Linked DNA regions of Homo sapiens: all the other regions are reported to be linked to region 2. Evidence: microRNA targets listed by miRTarBase, many of them from high-throughput screens and not tested one by one. Region 2 holds a microRNA gene; each other region holds the end of a gene's coding sequence.

What was found. Region 2 holds the annotated microRNA hsa-miR-4262 (GACAUUCAGACUACCUG, at 2,477-2,493, shown strand). A microRNA usually pairs through its seed, bases 2 to 8, with sites in the 3' UTR of a target mRNA and lowers its output. Matches are read on the target gene's strand: a 7mer-m8 pairs with bases 2 to 8, a 7mer-A1 pairs with bases 2 to 7 and ends in A, and an 8mer does both.
Region 1: the mRNA of ELK4 is a reported target of hsa-miR-4262. The part of its 3' UTR that is shown has no 7-base or 8-base seed match.
Region 3: the mRNA of PRAMEF11 is a reported target of hsa-miR-4262. Seed matches in the 3' UTR shown: 7mer-m8 at 790-796.
Region 4: the mRNA of NPM3 is a reported target of hsa-miR-4262. The part of its 3' UTR that is shown has no 7-base or 8-base seed match.
Region 5: the mRNA of CIAO2A is a reported target of hsa-miR-4262. The part of its 3' UTR that is shown has no 7-base or 8-base seed match.

The regions. Positions count from the first base shown.
Region 1 is chr1:205,613,080-205,617,079 of GRCh38, reverse strand. It overlaps ELK4 (ETS transcription factor ELK4), which reads left to right. Exons shown (of 5, transcript NM_001973.4): 5 at 436-4,000. The coding sequence ends at 534. Among named protein-coding and RNA genes, the nearest start is that of ELK4, 17 kb to the left of the region's middle.
Region 2 is chr2:11,835,010-11,839,435 of GRCh38, reverse strand. It overlaps MIR4262 (microRNA 4262), which reads left to right and starts at 2,450; the gene lies at 2,450-2,503. All of the region lies in intron 3 of LOC105373430 (a long non-coding RNA gene), which reads right to left.
Region 3 is chr1:12,821,500-12,825,499 of GRCh38, reverse strand. It overlaps PRAMEF11 (PRAME family member 11), which reads left to right. Exons shown (of 4, transcript NM_001146344.3): 4 at 1-895. The coding sequence ends at 558. LINC01784 (long intergenic non-protein coding RNA 1784) reads left to right here and starts at 2,277. Exons shown (of 2, transcript NR_146629.1): 1 at 2,277-2,464; 2 at 2,561-2,814.
Region 4 is chr10:101,778,509-101,782,508 of GRCh38, reverse strand. It overlaps NPM3 (nucleophosmin/nucleoplasmin 3), which reads left to right. Exons shown (of 6, transcript NM_006993.3): 3 at 1-31; 4 at 158-251; 5 at 655-782; 6 at 877-1,184. The coding sequence ends at 773. It also overlaps a transcript of FGF8 not described here. Among named protein-coding and RNA genes, the nearest start is that of NPM3, 2.9 kb to the left of the region's middle. RefSeq lists enhancers at 1-135, 1,063-1,357, 1,236-2,086, 2,164-2,293, 1,934-2,831 and 1 more, a silencer at 2,514-2,593 and a promoter at 1,203-4,000.
Region 5 is chr15:64,069,351-64,073,350 of GRCh38, forward strand. It overlaps CIAO2A (cytosolic iron-sulfur assembly component 2A), which reads right to left. Exons shown (of 5, transcript NM_032231.7): 5 at 3,215-3,678. The coding sequence ends at 3,581. Among named protein-coding and RNA genes, the nearest start is that of CIAO2A, 22 kb to the right of the region's middle.

The sequences.
Region 1 (4,000 bases), not on the chromosome of region 2:
TGATGGGGAACCCTTTTCTAGGATGAGTGCTATTTATACCTTTCTGGATCTCTTTTTGAGGGTTTATGATTTGCTCCATAATTGAATTACACTCTGTAGTGCATATTGTCATTTACTTGAACTTTCTAAAACCTTCATTTGAGGTTAATTGTAAACCTGTGTACCTTAGGATATGAAGGAGGGTACAGGTTGTTCTTTGTTTCTACTCCATTGAGGTAAGTTGGAGAATGTTAATATTTAATATGTTAGGACAAAAGATTTTTGTTTCTAGTTTTTGTTATGACATCATATTCTTTCATGATAAACAGCCACTGCCTTTGTCCTGTGAGCCATTACAGAAGGCTGTTGTGTTTTGCCTCAGGTAATAGAGTAGGATAGAAAGTAAAAGTTGGGGTTGAGTAATAGGATGATAATGTGTTTTGTTTTCTTTCTCAGTTTCCTTCTGTACTGAACAGTCATGGGCCATTCACTCTGTCTGGGCTGGATGGACCTTCCACCCCTGGCCCATTTTCCCCAGACCTACAGAAGACATAACCTATGCACTTGTGGAATGAGAGAACCGAGGAACGAAGAAACAGACATTCAACATGATTGCATTTGAAGTGAGCAATTGATAGTTCTACAATGCTGATAATAGACTATTGTGATTTTTGCCATTCCCCATTGAAAACATCTTTTTAGGATTCTCTTTGAATAGGACTCAAGTTGGACTATATGTATAAAAATGCCTTAATTGGAGTCTAAACTCCACCTCCCTCTGTCTTTTCCTTTTCTTTTTCTTTCCTTCCTTCCTTTTCTTTTCTCCTTTAAAAATATTTTGAGCTTTGTGCTGAAGAAGTTTTTGGTGGGCTTTAGTGACTGTGCTTTGCAAAAGCAATTAAGAACAAAGTTACTCCTTCTGGCTATTGGGACCCTTTGGCCAGGAAAAATTATGCTTAGAATCTATTATTTAAAGAAATATTTGTGAAATGAATTGGCATCTTTAGGACTAAGTGTGCTCTGTTGAATGACTTAAAGTGAGCTGTTCCTAAGCAGTGGAAGAAGAAGAATCATTCCTATTCATACAAAGTAAGATTGGAGCAGTCATACTGGGGAGATTGTTTTGTGTGAACTATAACGTGTAAGCAACTCCATGAAAAGGCATCTTGTTTACCTTTATTCAGGGTGGATCTCTTAGCCATATGTATGATCCTGTCTGAACCTGTCAACAGAGCATGGAGCTAGTCTATTTCACTATAGAAAGATTTTTAGACCTGGGGTTTAAGACAGTTTTTGGAACACCTAGTAAGAATATGGGACCTCACATCTAGCACAGAAATGCTCTTTGCCCTCTGGGTGGTATGATTATATGCCCATGGAATACAGCATGGGAAATGATCACTTTTAGGAGGATGAACTTGGATTTTGAATATTTGAAACATCTCTGAGTAAAAGATTCGATCAGATAACTTGAAACAACATGTAGTGGTTTTCTCAATTAGAAGATAACCAAGTGAAGGACCTGTCTTTTTCCTGTTCATTTTACCTCATTTTCTACTATACATTTATCACCTTTCCTTTATGTTTAAGGTTGTTAGAGGTTATGATAGTTTTAAAGATGCAGTTAGGAAGGTAGAATTCAAAGTGAAGCCTCCCCAGTCAGGAGCGAAGATGTGCTTATTTCCTTTTTTTTTTTTTTTTTTTTTTTTTGAGACAGAGTCTTGCTCTATCACCCAGGCTGGAGTGCAGTGGCGCGATCTCAGCTCACTGTAAGCTCCGCCTCCCGGGTTCAAGCAATTCTCCTGCCTCAGCCTCCTGAGTAGCTGGGACTACAGGCATGCGCCACTACGCCTGGCTAATTTTTGTATTTTTAGTAGAGACGGGGTTTCACCATGTTGGCCAGGATGGTCTTGATCTCTTGACCTTGTGATCCGCCCACCTCAGCCTCCCAAAGGCGCAGGCTCAGATGTGCTTATTTCTTTCAACTTTTTTTTTTTAAATGGGGAAGAGCAGAGTTCATTTGGGAATGCTTATACATAGGGATTGGATTGTTCATATTAGTAGTAAAAAATGTAGGCCTTATTCTCTACATTACCAAATTTTTAAAATATTACTATATGGTAATCAATGCCAGGTACAGATTTGTTGGTTCCCCAAACTGAATTGATATCAGTATCACAGTGGAGTCTTTTGAAAATTAAAGTCCAGGATTAAATTATATGTTGTCACCATTCACCACCACTACCACCCTCCCCCACCAATCTCTCCCACCGGTTAAACTCGTCTTCTAATCCTGTAGAATCACATGAACTAAATGAAGAAGTAAGAACTTGAAGGCTCAGACTGACACTGTTACAAACTAGCATCTTCAGATGCATGGTATTTACTTTAAATGTGCTTATATACAGTGTAGAGAAGCTCTTGTATAAGAAGACATCTATGCTAGCTAACTTAGTAGTAGTAGAGGGAACATATTCAGTGAGCTGCCTTTATATCTGTAGTGTCGGAGACTTGTTACTGGTTCATTTGTGGTTATCAGTTGAAGGTTCTGTTCCTGAGATGTGCAATAGTAGTGTTGAAAGGTATTGTTTAATAGTGATGGGGAACAGACATATTGGACTTTTTTTTCCATATTAAATTATTTAGTTTGCATGCCTGTTTGAAATTGGACCTCTCAGCAGCACTTTGAAATAGTTTTAATTAGGTTAACATTTTGTACATTAAATAAGTAGATATAGATGGTTGATTTAACTAGATGTGTTAAATTTTGAAAGCACAAAGGTATTTTATCTTTTTGAATTAAAGGAGAAAAGCCATTGATTTGTTTTCACAGACAGTATTTTTAATAATTAACTGTCTCAGCACAGAGGTACCTTGGAACCAAGGGCACCATTGAAACTCAGTTGAAGCAACTTCCTAGTAAACCATTTTAGTGAGTCCTTTTTGCATAAATCTATAGCCTCTCAGAGGTGTGAGGCTGTCACAGATTGGTGATCTGCTATCTCTTTGAGATCAACTAATTTGGAGAAGTGTGTGTGTGCGTATCCTTTTTTAAGTCAAAGTTTACAACCTTACTGCAGGTGTATGAGGCAGACAGTTCTGTTTATAGACTACCTCCTTCCTGGAAAAGTCTCAGCTTCATATTCTGTTGAATATATGCAGAATTCTTAGTGTGAAAGGTGATGTACCACTTCAGATCAGTTTTCACTGGAGAGACTTGTAATTGGTAGCTGTAGCTCGTATCCATCCCTAGTCACTTTGCCAGGATGAATGCTGTTGGGCAGCAGTAGCCTAAGTTACGGAAGGGGAGCAGATTGAATGGGGTTTTGAGACATCTTCTCTGATACCTTAGCTTTCCTTCTGCTCTGGTCGCTATCCACTCAGTCGTGTGCTAGAAATGTTTAACAACCAGGATCTCTGGGGTGGGGGTGGGGGGGAGCGCTGAATTTGTAGCATTTGCTGCAAATATAAATTATAAATAAAATTCTAATATAAATTAGAATTTTATATCAAATTCTTTGATATAAATTAGTTACTCCTCCTGTGGCTGATTTCAAGCTACCACCTTAGAGTTCAGAAAGGATGTGCACAGTTGGCTCAGAGCCAGTGCTGGCAAACCATTGCATTTACTCCACCCAAGAGTGGATTTTCACATAATTTCTAAAATAATTTTTTCTTATTTATATACTGACTTTTCAAAATACAAAATTAAAATATCATGTCTGACTTCAGTGATCTTTTTCTTTTTCTTTTTTTAGAAATGAGATCTTTCAGTAATCCTTTAATTTAATTTTTTAGAGATGGAGTCTTGGTGTGTTACCCAGGGTGGACTCAAACTCCCGGGCTCAAGTGATCCTCCTGCCTCAGCCTCCTGCATAGCTGGGCTACAGGCATGCACCACCACACCTGGCTTAGTAATCCTTCTTTATTAATGGTTTGTCACAGTACGTTTGTGATGTTATATTGCTCATGGCATACTTTATGTGTTCGAACAAAGGTGGAAATTTCCATTGATTTTTTT
Region 2 (4,426 bases):
GCCTGTAATCCCAGCACTCTAGGAGGCCAAGGCAGGCGGATCACCTGAAGTTGGGAGTTCCAGACCAGCCTGGTGAACATAGTGAAACCCTGTCTCTACAAAAACAAATACAAAAATTAGCCACACGTGGTGGCACACATCTGTAATCCCAGCTACTCAGTGGGCTGAGGCATGAGAATTGCTTGAACCTGGTAGGCAGAGGTTGCCGTGAACTGAGATGACGCCACTGCGCTCCAGCCTGGGTGACAGAGTAAGACTGCATCTCGATAAATAAATAAATAAATAAAATCTACTCCCTTAGCAGTTTTAAAGAATATAATACATTATCACGGTCCTCAAAGTATATAAATATCAAAGCATCACGTTTTACACCATAAATATATTCATTTTTCCTTTATTAAAAATATTTAAAAATTGTTTAAAGAATACACAGGCACATAGGAAGCAAATGTCAGTTTCACTCATCTGGACAAGTTGTCAACAACCCCCATTCACTCTGGAAAAATACAAGAAGAGCTGGTATGGAGATCACACCTGGGTCTGAGGCCAAATGAGGCACTGCACCTACCTGTCTATAGGTATGAAGACAGCCAGGTACCCACTCAGCCAGGTGTGGGGAGGGGAGAGATCAGAAGCCTGCTGGGTGCACATGGGCACTTAGAGCTGTGCTTTGGGGACCCCAGAGAGGCCGAGGCATGCCCTCCAGCCTCCCAGCACAGGGGAGACCTCAGCATGTGTCAGGGGTCACCTCACCACGCAGACTGGCCCTCCCTGTTCCTGTGGCTTCATGTGTCCTTGAAAGGGCAGCCAAGGCTGGCTGACGGGGCAGGGAATGGACAAGGAGCAGCCTGGAAGGGCTGGCACCATTCTGAAACTCTGCAGAGTGGACCTTCACCAGCGGCTTCTCCAGCAGGAGCTGCCTCTCCCCTGTCACCTTGTTTGGAACAATGAGGCATGTCCAGACTGAACACGTTGCCTCACTGGCCACTCGCTGGCTGTTCCTCAGGGTCAACCACTCAACCTGCCTCAGGTGGACCTCTGGACTTCCATGCAGGCCTCAGCCGGCTCTGTGTTTCTGGGCTGCTGGACTCTGTAATGGGCCCTCCATGCACTCATGTGTCTGTGCTAGAGACTTGGAAGTGATCCCAGCTTCCTCCCCGGCTCTCCTCGGCTCCCCTCCTTCATGCCTGTGTCACTGCCTCAGTTTGGACCTTCAGTTTCTCCATTCTGAGCCACCTGGAGTCTTCAGGTAAGGTTCCTTGCTCCTGCCCAGCCCCTCCCATCTGTCACCACCACCACCTGGGTGATCCCTCTAAAGCATCACCCAACTCTGCCATTCCCCACTCCTCCTCCCTTTAGTGGCCACCAAGTGCATGGGAAATGAGGCCAGGCCACCTGGCTCATGATGTGGCCCTGCTCACCCCTTAACAGCATCCCTGCTGCACTTCAGAGCCAGTCCTCCAGCCACACTGCTGCCCGTCCATTGCCCTGTTTTCCCTGTTCCCTGGGTGGAAACGTCTTCCAGACTTTGAGGAAGGAGCAAGAGACAAATCATAACCAAATTCCTCCCTGACTGTTGGGCCAAGTAAGATGGAGACTAAACTGCTTGGCTCTGTCCCTTGGAGTTCATTGAAGACATTGAGTGGGTACCGTGGAGTGGGAGCCAAAGGTCAGCTTGGAGTGGGTGCAAGAGGGAAGGAAAGGGAGGAAGGGGAAAAGCAAGGACAGTCAGCTTCTGGTGTCCATGGTGGATTGGTTTCGGGACCCTTGTGGATCTCAAAATTCATGGATGTCAAGCCCCTGATATAAAATGGCATAGTATCTTTATGCAACCTATGCACATCTTCTGTGTACTTTAAATAATCCCTAGATTGCTTATAATGCCTAATACAATGTAAATGCCATGTTAATAGTTGCTATACTCTATGGGTTAGGAAATCATGATAAGAAAAAAAGTCTGGATGTGTTCAGTAAAGACAGATTTTTTCCCAAATATCTTTGACCCATGCTTGGTTGAATCCACAGATATCAAACCCATGGATTGGAAGGGCAGACTATATAGTCATCTCTTCCAAGAATTTGGCCATAAAGGGAAGCAGAGAAATGAGTGGTCATGGAGAGGAATATGAGTTGGGGCTGGTTTTACGCTGATGGGACACATCACAGCAGATCTGTATGATGATGGGAATGATTCTGTAGACAGTGGGAATTTGAGATATAGGCATTGGAGTGGCTAATGACAGGTGCATTGTCCTGGAGTTGGGGAAAAGAGGCAGGACAAGGTGCTAGACTAAAAGTGGGCATTGGAGGCACTTGCACAGTGAGCAGTAGGGCTCCTCGGCTGCTTCCCTGGTCCAACTGTGGCATGTGACAGGCCGTTCACCACAAGCTCCACCTCCCGCCATGAGGCCAGGCAGCCTCTCTGCAGATACCAAACCACCCCAGAGAGGAAAGCTGCAGGTGCTGATGTTGGGGGGACATTCAGACTACCTGCAGCAGAGCCCATGGCTGACAGGACCTGCACACCCCACAAAGAGACACCCACACCCCCCATGTTCACAACACAGACACCCACACACACACCCATATACACCCCACAGACACAGACCCACACTCATATACCCACACCTACCCACAGATAGACGCAGACACCTGCCATCCTGCACAGGCACCTCCCAACCCCACAACGTTTTAGTGCATCTCTCTTACATATAAACAGATATAAAGTATTACCAGACACTTGAGGGAAGTCGCCCATAGAAACCAAAGCAAACGAGCAAAATTTGAGGAGTTACTATTGAGATAATTCAGGAAACAGAAGAAAATTTCACAGACACTATAACTAATGTCTTCAGAAGGGTAGACTGAAGGGTAGACTCACAAAATTAGAGATGGATACCACAAAAAAAAATTAAGAACAATCCATTTGGGATCTTGGAGACAGGGCCTCCAATTAAGGAGAAAAGCAGAGAAGACTCCAGATTGATGGCTTGTTGGGGGTCAGAGCAGCCCTGTTAGACTGGAATGTGCGGGGAGAGCACTTTAGTGGGAGGGTTTCCAGGAGGAAAAAAGGAGACATGTATTTAACAATGTGGAAAATATTACAGAGATTTTTTTCCCATAACATTTTTTGGGGGCTGAGGAAGGAGTTAGTAATAATTTGAAAAAATAATGAGCCATAAAAAATGGAGCATATTAACTCCAGGGAAGGCCAAAAGTTATAGAAATAAAAAAAAACATGATATTTTTATACTATAAGGCTTAGGGATGGGAAAAAGCACATATGAAAGACAAAAACTTCATCTGGCATCGTAAGTCAATAAGGAATGCCTAAATTTCATTAATCGAAATATTGTAGTATGTTCATTTTACTTAAAAATATCAAAGTAAATTCCAGAATAAACAGGGGCAAGGGTTGAAAATGAGAATCAGGAGGGGTGTGGGGGAGGGGGGCAAGTAGGACCAGCCATGTGGATTTTGTGTGTCTTCTGGTAAAAATCTTCAACTTTTAAAACTATGTGAATATGTTATTTTGGTTTCAAAAAAAACAGTAGACTGAAAACTATAAAAAGCCAACAAAATAAAGGGAGAAAGAAAGAAAGGAAGGGCAAAAAGAGAGGCGGGGGGAAAGAGGTGGAAAAGGGGAAAGAGAAATTGACCAGCAGGGACAACAGACACAGCTCTTGCCTGCTCTCTTCTCCACTCTATAATGTTTTCTCACTAGTCAGATTCTTCAAGGACAATCCCTTTTATTCCATCTGGTGGCCAATTTGAAGAGTGCCTGGAATGGGCATTGATACAACAGTCGCTATTATGTCTGTCTGAGTGGTGTTTTGTACTTCAGAATTATACTCGACAATAAAGCATTGGAAGAAAGAAAATGTCATTGCAGTGCCTACTATGTGGATGACGCAATGCCAAGCATTAGGGGATCTAGGAGCTTATGTCTGGTTGGAGACAGACATTGAAGAAATCATGCACAGAAGCGGGGCAGGTGCAGTGATAGAATGTCAGTGTCCTGTGAGGGTGCCACACAGGGAGGGTCTAGTCTACCTGGGGGTAAAAGTGATGGGTGTTTTCAGGGTAGGGAAGGTCTCCTCTCAGGAGGGACACCTGGACAGTCCTTGGACCTTGGATTTTCTCTACTCCCTTCAGTCTCTCCCTGGGCTCATCCTGCCCTGTGGCTTTCATCACCATCTGTGTACTAATCATGCCCAAATGCCCACTGTCAGTCCTGAGTTCTCCCGTGAAAATTAGAGTGGCATATCCATTGCCCACTTGACTTGTCTTCTTGGATGTCTAATCATTCTTTCAAACCTACACGTCCAAAGAAAACTTGGTTTTCTCCCCAAGTTCAGCTCCTCTCAGTTTTCCCCTTACAGTGGTCTGCAAGGCCCTTCACAACTGGGCTCCTGCTACCTCCACC
Region 3 (4,000 bases), not on the chromosome of region 2:
CTGAAGACCTCGTTAAAGGTCCTCACAATAACTAACTGTGTGCTTTTGGAATCAGACTTGAAGCATCTATCCCAGTGCCCGAGTATCAGTCAACTAAAGACCCTGGACCTGAGTGGCATCAGACTGACCAATTACAGTCTTGTGCCTCTCCAAATTCTCCTAGAAAAAGTTGCAGCCACCCTTGAGTACCTGGATTTAGATGACTGTGGCATCATAGACTCCCAAGTCAACGCCATCCTGCCTGCCCTGAGCCGCTGCTTTGAGCTCAACACCTTCAGCTTCTGTGGAAATCCCATCTGCATGGCCACCCTGGAGAACCTGCTGAGCCACACAATCATACTCAAAAACTTATGCCTGGAGCTGTATCCTGCCCCGCAGGAAAGTTATGGTGCTGATGGTACTCTCTGCTGGAGCAGATTTGCTCAAATTAGGGCTGAGCTGATGAAGAAAGTGAGGCACTTAAGGCACCCCAAGAGGATCTTGTTCTGTACTGACAACTGCCCTGACCATGGCGACAGGTCATTTTATGACCTGGAGGCAGATCAATACTGCTGTTGAATGCCTGCCTATTTGGATGGGTATGTCAAACGCTTTCTTCTGGACACTTGGAAACTAAAACCTAGGTCTTAGGTACATCCTAAAGGGAGCACAGAACCCATCGTTTCACACATGGGCTCTGAAAGTGGGAAAGGAAAGCTGATCAAGCAGGGGCAGGACTTGGGGGAAATGTTGCCATGGATTCAATGGGACTTTGGGAACCTGTATCCTGTAGAGTCGAAAATGGGAATCTGAATGTCTAGAGTGGAATTCAGGCTTGAGAATACATGAGGGAGTTACTCTTGCATGGATGGTTGTAAAGAAACAATCAGAAATAAAGGAAAACTGAGCAGAATCTGTCTGGTGCCCTCTATTATTAAGTAACCTGTTTTCCAGTTTAAGCCTCAGGAATCTTCAGTTATTGATGGAAAAAACAAAAGGCACTGACTGAGTTGTCCAATCAATAAGATGCAGCCCAAGAAAATCAAGGCATTTAAATGAAATTTGGTTATTGTAACCAGTTTCCTCCCATTCTTTTATTTGAGACAGAGTTTCACTCTTGTCGCCCAGGCTGGAGTTTAGAGTGCAATGGTGCCATCTCAGCTGACTGCAACCTCCACCTGGGGTTTAAATGATTCTCCTGCCTCAGCCTCCCAAGTAGCTGGGATTACAAGCATGCACCACCATGCCCAGCTAATTTGTGTATGTTTAGTAGAGACAGGGTTTCCTCACTATGTTGGCCAGGCTGGTCTCAAACTCCTGACTTTGGGTGATTCACGCAAGTAGGCCTACCAAAGTGCTGGGGTTACAGGTGTGAGCCACTGTGTCAGGCTTTTGTTTTTGTTTTTGTTTTTGTTTTTTAAAGGTCTCCTGTCACTCAGGCTACAGTGCAGTGGCACAATCATACCTCATTGCAGCCTCAATTTCCTGGGTTCAAGCGATCTTCCCACCTCAGCCTCCTGAGTAGCTAGGACTACAGCTGTGTGAGCCACCACACCTGGATACTTTTTTTTAGTAGAAACAAGGCCTCGCTGTCTTCCCCAGGCTGATCTGGAACTCCTGAGCTTGTGATTCTCCTGCCTTGGCCTCCCAAAATGCAGGGAGTATAGGCGTGGACCACCACGCTTGGCTTGGCCTCCTCCAGTTCTTCACTTCTTTAGATGTCTGTTAACTCCTTGTTAGTTTCTGTGGCTGTTCAGTGGGTTAATACACACTAGGTGGACACCAAAGGCCTGGAACATTGCTGGGCAAGAACAGTGAGCCAATCCACACGGAAAGCACCTTCTTCTCAGCGTCTTTCACCGCTATCCAGATGCTGAGACCCTGCCCACTCCCTGTGAGTCTCCACATGCTTCCAGAAGCCTTAGTTGGTGGATGTCAGCTTCACTGCACAAGGAGCCAGTCTCTTCCCGCTGCCCTGGAAGGGGATGTCCATATTGTGTATTAGCTGGAGACTCTGGGCAGCACCAACCCTTGCTTGTTCCCCTGATGACCAGCAGCCCTTCTTGAATTAAACTTGTTGTAGCCAGTAAAGACAGCCACATTCCCTTTAAGTAAAATACTAAAACTATACAGGCATGTAACACTTTTTAAATATTTCCATCTGACATTTTAAAAGTTACATCTTTTTGGGGAGCTAGGTCAGATTGATGAGAGATTTTCTCATAACACCTTCCCTCTCTCCCTATGAAGGAAGTGACTAGTGCAGCATGTTCTGGAATCTGACATCATCAAAGGGTGGATAACGATCAAGTGCCTGTGGGTGATGAGTGACCTTCCCTGTGGTGAGGAAGCCTGCATAGTGGGCACCCAAGTGAAGGATCCTGCTGTGTACTCAGGGGCTGGTGTTGCTGTCAGGGATGTTAGCCTAGAGCCTCAGCTTCCTGTAAAATGAGGATGATGATATCCAACAGCTTATGGGACCTTGGTAGGATCCAATGAGATGGTTCATGTTTAGGGCTTGGCATGGGGTCTGGCATACAGTAAGATCAATACATCTTGTTCTTTTTTCTCTTCTCAGCAGAAGTCCCAGCATTTTTCATCTTTCAATCTCACCTCCTTTTCCTGATAATAGAGAGGCAACAAGAACTCAGGGCATGCAATGGGGCTCAACTTCTACTCTCTGCCACAATTTCATCATGATTCCCCCAAAGAGCAGAGCCCCAGGAGCCAGCAGGGGGCAGGGTGGGCATTTCTGGACTGGATTCATTCATAATAAGATCAAAATTTCCAATCCGTATGTCTCGGGTGCCATCTGCTGATAGATCGGACCAGATGGTATAATTGAGTGTTGCAAGGATTATATTTTATGGTGTTTTTAAAAATGTACTATTATGAGCCAGGTGCAGTGGCTCATGCCTGTAATTCCAGCACTTTGGGAGGCTGAGGCAGGTGGATCACCTGAGGTCGGGAGTTTGAGACCAGCCTGAGCAACATGAAGAAACCCCTTCTCTACTTAAAATACAAAAAATAGCCAGGCGTGGTGGCACACGTCTGTAATTGCAGCTACTCGATAGGCTGAGGCGGGAGAATCGTTTGAACCTGGGAGGTGGAGGTTGCGGTGAGCTCAGACTGAGCCATTGCACTCCAGCCTGGGCAACAGTAGCAAAACTCCATCTCAAAAAAAAGATAAAATAACATTTATTATTATGGCTGGGCATGGTGTCTCACACCTCTAATCCCAGCACTTTGGGAGGCCGAGGCAGCCTCGGGATGTTGAGACCAGCCTTGCTAACATGGTGAAACCCCGTCTCTACTAAAAATACACAAAATTTGCTGGGAGTGGTGGCATTCGCCTGTAATCCTAGGTATTCAGGAGGCTGAGGCAGGACAATCACTTGAACCCGGGAGGAGAAGATTGCAATGAGACGAGATCGCGCCACTGCTCTCTAGCCTGGGCGACAGAGCATGAAAAAAAAATTTACTATAGTGTGAATACTATTAGAGTATAACTATTTGTGTTGTAATTTATGTATATGAAAGATTAGAACTTTGAAAGAATGCAACGTGATATTTTAAGAATGGTTAATGGCCAGGTGTGGTGGTTCATGCCTGTATTCCTGGCACTTTGGGAGGCCGAGGTGGGTAGATCACGAGGTCAGGAGTTCCAGACCAGCCTGTCCAACATGATGAAACCCGGTCTCTACGAAAAATACAAAAAATTAGCCTGGCGTGGTGACAGGTGCCTGTAATCCCAGATAGTCAGGAGGCTGAGGCAAGAGAATCGCTTGAACCTGGGAGGCAAAGGTTGCAGTGAGCCGAGAATGCACCACTGCACTCCAGCCTGGGTGAAAGAGGAAGACTCCGTCCCAAGGAGGGTGAGAAAAAGAATACTTAACTTGGTTTGAAATGTCAAAACAAATGAGATTTTGAAAACTAATTTTAAAGACACTGAACAATAATCATTTCTTCTTTAAAATATATTTAGAACAATACAATTTTATCTTTGAAAGGAAACATTACA
Region 4 (4,000 bases), not on the chromosome of region 2:
GGCCAACCTCAAGCTGTCCTGCCAACCCATGGTGAGTTCCCCAGCTCTGCCTTGGTGGTGGTGGTGGTGGTGGTGAGGGGATTGAGGACGTTAGCACTCATTACAGTGTGGGGTGGGCTAGGAGTGGGCCAGGCCTTCATCCTTGTCTTCCTCCCAGCTCAGTCTGGATGACTTCCAGCTCCAACCACCTGTAACCTTCCGCCTGAAGTCGGGCTCTGGCCCTGTGCGGATCACTGGGCGGCACCAGATTGGTGAGAAGAGGGGAGGGCCCTCTCCTTTGCTTCCAGTGGACTCTCCCATCAGGCTTCCCCCACTCCGCACTCCTGCCCCATCCCACCCTCATCTCCCAGTGCAGCCCTGTACAGGTCTGTGTGCCCTCCACGCTGTGCCCTGTGCATGACATGCCCTCTCCTTTCCGTCTACTCAAGCCTACCTCCTCCATGGAACATGGCCCAACTTCTCCAGCTCCAATAATGAAGACTCCTTTGGCTCTTTGTGACCCAGTTTAGGGTCTGAGGTTCTTCCCACCTAGCCCATAAGCACTGGGAGGTCATGGTCCCTGTAAGCCTAACACCACGGCGTGAAGAAATGGCATGCGGTGTGAAACGGTCTGGTCTTAACACCCCATCCTTCTACTGCTTGTGTGTCCACCAGTTACGATGAGCAATGATGTTTCTGAGGAGGAGAGCGAGGAAGAGGAAGAGGACAGTGATGAGGAAGAAGTTGAGCTGTGCCCCATCCTTCCTGCCAAAAAGCAGGGGGGCAGGCCCTAGCCCTCCTAGGTGAGTTGCGGGGAGAAGTGCCTAGCAGGCTCTGGGAAGGGGCAGGAGAAGCAGGTGAGGGCCTAAATGCTGATTCCTTGTTTCCTCTTTTCAGGTCAGCTCCATGTGCCATGCACCGCCATGCACCCTGTTCCCTGACAAGTTTCAACAATTGTAAATATTTCTTCCTTGAAGAGGAGAGCTTGGGTGGGGGTTGGGTGGGAGGGACTTGGGTCTTTGGTGCTAGGAGAGGGCCTGTGCTCCACACAGCCGTGGTTTTCTGATTTTCACCATGCCCGGGGCCTCCCTTCCCACCTGCCTGTGAGAATTGGAGGTTAGTGCCTGAAGCTCAGAGCTACACATTTTTAATAGTTTTTACATTTTTGGATAAAGGTTGAAATAAAGTGGTGTGGAGTTTTTGCAGCTCTTGTGTGGCTTCTTCCTGTGCTGGGTGATGTTTCCCTAGGGACCGCCAGGTGGCACTGTGGAAGCACCCAGCGTGGCCCTGGGCCTGGGGGAGGGTGGAGAACTGTGGGATCCTCTACCCTCATGGCCCTGGGCTAGGACCTGGGGCCTGGGCCCCAGTTGCCTTGCTGGAAGGGGACCTCCCAACACTCAGCCCATTCCCAGTCTCTGCAGGTGGGAGAGGGTCATCGCAGGAGGTTATCAGCATCCAAACAAGGGGTCTGGGCCTCTGTCAGCACTCGGCTGATGGGCAGGGGGGCAGATAAGCGAGCTTAGGCAGCCTGAGGAATGCGCGTCCCTAGCCCCACGAGGGTCTCTGGCCCAGAGAGGGCCTGTGAGGGCAGGGCGGGACCAGGCTTCGCTCCTCCTTTGAGCCTTGCAGGCTGTCTCTGAGCAGGGCTGGGCCCTTAGAGAAACCTGACTCCGGGGGCCAGATGGAGGGGACTGGCCAGATTGGGTGACAGGGAAACCAGAATCCGGGTGGCCTGGCATATGGGGGCAGAAAGGGGCCCCAGGGAATTTGCCTCCTGGACTAAGGGATTCTTGTCCCCCACACACCGTGGGGTCTGGGGGTCTTTGGTGCCTGGAATCAGGTAGTTCTGGCACTTGGCTGCCTTTGTGCCAGGAAGAACTGACACACCTGGTTTGAGGATGAGTGTATGTGACCAGCTCTGGGGTCAGCAGTTCAGCAGCTGTGTTGGTTGTGGGGGGAGGGTTGTCAATGCCCACAAACAAACAAACAAACAAAACATTGCCTCCCCAGACAACCTGGGGCCAGACAGGCTGAGGATAGACAGAGAACAGGGCCTGATGGGGGTCAGGCCAACTCCCACTCCCAGCCTCTAGTCAAGGGGGAGGGGCCCCGGGATATCGCGGGCTGGTGGTTCTGGGGCAGGTGAGGTCAGCTTTGAAGACCTTGCGTCCGCAGTACCGACCCGCACGCTCTTCAGCGCATCCCTAGTGAAGGAGGTTCTCCCCCAGCCCGTGGTGAGGAACTAGGGGTCCAGTTTCCAACCTCCCTCTTCCTCAAGTTGAGGACAAAGGGAGATGACGCCCGTCTGTGTTGCGGTGATCTGGGTCGCAGGCGCCTTTCTCCGATCCAGGAGGGCGCTGCTAAAAATGCTTCCCTGGGGAGCCCGGCGGAGGGGCGGCCTGGCTGGGAACCATGGGTCTCGCTGCGGAGCGCGGTCGGCAGGGAGAGGGAAGTCGGGGCTGGCGCCCTCTGGCGGGCGAGGTTGAAGCCGCTCGTGGTCGTACCGCTTCCCTGGCCTCTAGAGGCTCCGGGCGGGCGCCGTGGGGCCGGGGCCTCCGAGTCCCGCCACTGCTCTGGGCGGCCGAATCTTGGGCGGAAGGCGGGGGAATGCCACTGAGGCTTGCATGCATGCGTGCATACGTTCATTCATTCATTCGAACGACTTGAGTTGGAGTGGGGAAGTCTGGCTGTGGCCCTCACTCCTCTTTCCCTTCCTCTTCTTGGCCCCAGCCTCCAAAGTCCTCGGCACGTGCTTGGCAGGAGGAGCGGGAGACTGGCTGAGTCCTCTCTCCTGGGAGGCCTCCCTAGCTGACCCATCTACCCCCTGCGCGGCTCCGCCCCAATATTTACCCCACCCACCCCCCGCGATGCCACTGATCGCTCCTTGCATTTCTCGCCGGTTTTCCGGGTAGGTCTCCCGGTGGGCGCGGGCCTGCGCCGAGCACGCTCCTGCCCGCAGTGGGGGCCCAATCCACATCAGCCTCTCGGCCCAAGAGTTTCTCGGCCGGTTGGGGCGCCCCGCGGACACAGCTGGGCAAGGTTTATTCCTCTCTCCTCGCCCCAGCCTCTCCTCGAGCCCTCTTCTTTGCCCTTCAGCGCACAGTAGGAGCGCTGCCGGCTCACTGTGGCCTCAGACCCCTGGGGGATGAAGGCATACGCCGGGGTTTGCCGACTGCTGGAGGAAGGGCAGGCTTCTATTTGGGGGCCGAGGGAGACGACTCCCAGACAGTGGCCGAAGTGCTTAACGTAGTCTCGGCGATTTGCATTTGAACGGTCGGCAGTGAGTCCGCGGCGCTTTGAACGCCCGGCGCAGGAAGCGCGCGTCGGAGCGAGCTGCGGTCTCCGGCGGGTGTGGATTGGAGGGGCCGGGGGATGGGCTGGGATCGAGGGGTGCGTTTGGAAATAGGCTGAAGTAGTGTGTCTGGGTGCAGGCGAGGGCGTGTCTGCGGAGATGGGCCGTTTGTGTTGGCGAGGAGTGTGTGTTTGTGTTTGCAGGCGAGGGAGTTTGTGTCTGTGCGTGTGTGTGTTTGTGTTTGCGGAGTGTGGGGGCGGCCAGGAAAGGTGGCCGGGCTGTCACTCAGCGATCAGGTTGACAGGCGCTCCCTCATCTGGGCCAGGGAGCTCTGATTGCAGATTCGAGGAAACAAAATAGCAATTGTAATTACCGGGCTTTGATAAGATAAAGGAGGGAGGGAGCTGGCCGGGAGGCGGGCGAGCCAGCAAGGGAGGGAGCGGCCTGCGGGGGCCCGGCGGGACATTTGCATCTGTCAGTCACGGGGCGTGCCAGGGCAGAGCCAGGTGCTTGCTCCCGGGGTGTCCCCATCTGCTCCTCTCCCCCAGAGAAACGGACTTTTGGGGAGATGAGAATTTCAACGAACTAGGTGAGGGTCCGCTTCTCAGGAGGGTCTCCAAATCCAAATGTAAAGGAATCCTGGTCCAGCACAGGCTCCCTGGCAGAGGCTGGGACAGGACTGAAACTTGACCTCGGACCCTTCAGATCCCAGGACGCCCATCTTCTCTG
Region 5 (4,000 bases), not on the chromosome of region 2:
GAGATGGGGTTTCACCATCTTGGCCAGGCTGGTCTTGAACTCCTGACCTCGTGATCCACCCGCCTCGGCTCCCAGAGTGCTTGGATTACAGGCGTGAGCCGCTGCACCCAACCTAAGCCACCACGCCCGGCCATAAGCTTCTTATTTGTAACGGTCTAAGAAAGCAGTGGATAAATAATTAGTTGAGCGTGGTAGCTCTCATCTGTAGTCCCAGCTTCTTGGGAGGCTGAGGTGGGACAATTGCTTGAGCCCAGTAGTTTGAGGCTGCAGTGAGCCCTGATGGTGCCTTTTCACTCCAGCAGGGGCGACAGAGAGCGACCCTGTCTCAAAAGCAAAAACAAGAAGGTAGTGGCTCCTACTGGGGCTCAGAAAGCAATAACCCAAAATATGGCTCCTTGGTGTGCTGTGAATTAAAGAAGAATAGAAAGCCTCAGAAGCAGCCTCAAAAGCAAAGACTCTCTCTGACCATATCCTGCCCTGCTGTCTCCTGCCCCTTCCTCCTCCAAAGGGAGTCATAGAAAACAGAATCTGTCTTCCCCAAGGGAGGAAATAGAAACCAGAACCTCTTTTCAAAGCAAGCCATACCAGTCTGGGAAACATGGCAAAGTCCCATCTCTACAAAAAAATACAAAAAAAAATTTAGCTGGGCATGGTGGTATGCACCTGTGGTCCCAGCTACTTGGGAAGTTGGGGTGGGAGGATCACTTGAGCCTGAGAGGTTGAGGCTGCAGTGAGCCATGATTGTGCCACTGCACTCCAGCCTGGGCAACAGAGCAAGACCATCTCAAAAACAAAAACAGTAACAACAACAAAAAGCAAACCACAAAACCTAGAAATATTACTCTAACTTTCCCCCGCCTTTCTGTGCATGAGCTGGCCATAAAGAAATTCTCTGACCTGCCTTATCTAACAGTAGGTCATAAGACTGCCCCATACCCAGGAGGAAGGAATGCTACACAGAAAGGCCAAGAAGAATCTGAAGAGATAGTCCTTGCTGGGTTTCCCCACTTAGTCCATTACCATTAGATCGCACTTTTTGTCCAATCACATTTCTACACAATTGTCCACTCTTCGTCAAACCTAAGCAGAAAAATAAGACAGTTTTCCCTGGGTCTTTGGATTCTTCCTATCTGAAGCCTGCTGTGTCACATAAAACTTGGATTGACCACATTTGTTATGCTTTTCTCTTGTTACCCTGTCTTTTGTCACGGGGGTGTTGGCCATGACCTTTATGATGGGTGAGGAAAGGTATCACACCTTCTGCCCCTATACTCCCAAAGTTGTGAACCCTCAGGGCTCTGGGGGGTTATTAAAGGAGGGGGGAGCCCAGTGCTCAGCTAGCATTACTTGTAAAGCAGAGTTATTAACCCGGGGTCCACTGGCTCCTTAGCAAGTCTGTGAATGTCCTGGAGTCACATGCAGTTTCATGTGAGTGCCTTTTTCTCCCTAGGGAGAGGGCCCATTCCACATCTTTTATCTGATTTTCCAATTGGTCTGACTTTTCAGAAAGGATAATCATTCTTGTAAATCAGGAGTTTGCTAATGGCACACAGGCCAAATCCAGCCCAATGCTGGAATTTTGTACAACCCACAAGCTAAGATGGTTTTTATATTTTTAAACGGTTGAAAAAATTAAAAAGGAAAATATTAATTCATGACACATGAAAATTATATGAAATTCAAATTTGTGTCCATAAAGTTTTCTTGGAGTGCAATCATGCTTATTTGTTTACAGACTATCAGCTGCTTTTGTGCTACAAGGGCAGAGTTGAATAGTTACAACAGAGCATATGGCTTGAAAAGCCTAAAATATTGCCTATGTGGCCCTTTTCCAAAAACGTTTCCTAACCCTTGCCAAACATGGACCAGATAACACTACTTCTGACTATATATGTACCTCTATTTTTCACTTCTATGTAGATACCATTATGATTAATAAAGTTTAAATTCATGTTCTAATATAATTAATGCAGTAGATGTTAGTTTTTTGACCCCTCTCACTCTACTATAGAATTCCCACCATGTGAGTCTTGCTGGGGGGACAGAGTCCACCTCCCCACACCAAAGGTCAGATTTTCTTTTCTCCCGCCTTCTTGGCAGCCAGGACATGGACATGTGACTTGAGATCAGCCGACTAGAGATCTCAGCTAGGACTAGGAAGCTGGAGTGAGTCACACAAAAATGAGAAATCACTCTGGCAGTAGCGGAGACAACAGAAGTCACATCTAGCTTCCAGGAGCAGCAGGGCCAGCAGTTCAGGTGACTCCTGTAGCAATGATCCACTTGGAGTTGCATGTCAGTAGTGTCCTCACCAGACAGTCCCTAAGGCATGGTTTTGTCTTTGGACCTGCTGCCCGGCTTCTGTTTCTACTTGGCCAGGACGAGCTCAGGCAGTAGATAAAACTGAGTCCGAATCACTCACTGCCTGGAGCAGAGAGAAGCTGAAGGTCCAGGCTAATAAGTATGAACTCCAGGAGGACAGACAATGGCTGATGTATCTTTGTGTCCTTGGCACCCAAGACAGTGCCTGGGTCCAGACTTTGGGAGCTAGGCAGTTCTGCATCAGGAGTTCACTCACATGGTTTGCAAATTGCTGCTGGTTGTTGTTGGGAGGCCTCAGCTGCACTCCGTGTGGAATTCTCCACAGGGTGGCTTGAGTTCTCGTGACATAGCAGCTGGATTCCTACAGAATAAGCAATCCAAGAGCCTAAGGTGAAAACAGCAATACCTTTTATGATCTAGCCTCAGAAGTCACCCATTGTCACTCTGCCATTCTTTATTAGCCACACCCATCAGCTCCAATTCAATATGGAAGTTAACTATACAAGGGCATGAATACCAGGAAGTGAGGATCTTGGGGGCCATGTTGGAGGCTACTATACTTCACATGACCATTAACCCCTAAAACAAACCAAATGAAGGACAGATAAAGTGCGGACCATACATTTAGGTTGGTTTAATCAAAACTTCTTTGGTGGACTTCTTGATCTTCAAAATTGTGTATGCCATCTAGCCTTCTCCACATTTGTTCCTTATCTATGAAAGGGTCCAGGACTCTCCTTGGAAGGAAGGAAGGCCCAATCTTAAGGGTTCCTTTTGGTTCTCAGATCTCTGATTCTACAAAATAATCAGCAAAAATAAAGCTTTGAAGATATCCTTTAGGAGTTGACATTTACACTGGAATTTACAATTCAATAAAAACAGTGAGTCATTATAAGAATCATCTGCTTATTTATTTTACAGAGTAATGATTTAAATTGAGTACATTTGGGCACAGTAGATATTTGACACGAAAAATAGTTGTATCAGAATGAGCATCAGAAAAATAGCAACTCATCTTGCACATAATAACTAGAAAATATTATTCTGTCTGATCATTTAAGTGTTACAAATCCTGAGAATGTTATACATTGAACAAATTAGGTACTACCTTATAATTAAATCTCGCTTGGAAAGAATCCTTTAAAAAATACTCTGAGGTACAAATCACCTATGTATTAAACATGAGTCTCTGACATTATACAAAGAGTTTAAACAAATATATCAAACAATTACAGGCCAGTGGCTCTTAAAACAGCTATCAGTCAGGTTCAAGGACACACTGTTCCACAATTTCCCGTAAGTTGGGGTTTTCCATTGCAGCTGCCACTCGCTCTTTGTCATTTATCTGCTTATTGACTGAAAAATACACAGACAAAAGTTAGCAGAAGAACTGTGTCAATATACAGCACCAGACAGTATTTTTATTAGCCTGCTGAAACAAAAACTTTAACTCCTTGAGAACTTAAACCTGTTTTTGGCTAATTACTCATAATGTAATTTCCCATCTAGAAGGCAGACTTAAGAGAAAAATATCTACTAGAATTCTACTACTTAACCACATCTATTTTTTTCTTTCCAGTCTTTGTCCATACACATATTTTTATACAGTTACATTCAGAGTAAATATAATTTTGAAAATTGCTATTTTTTCCCCCATAAGCCTATATTTTAAACTACA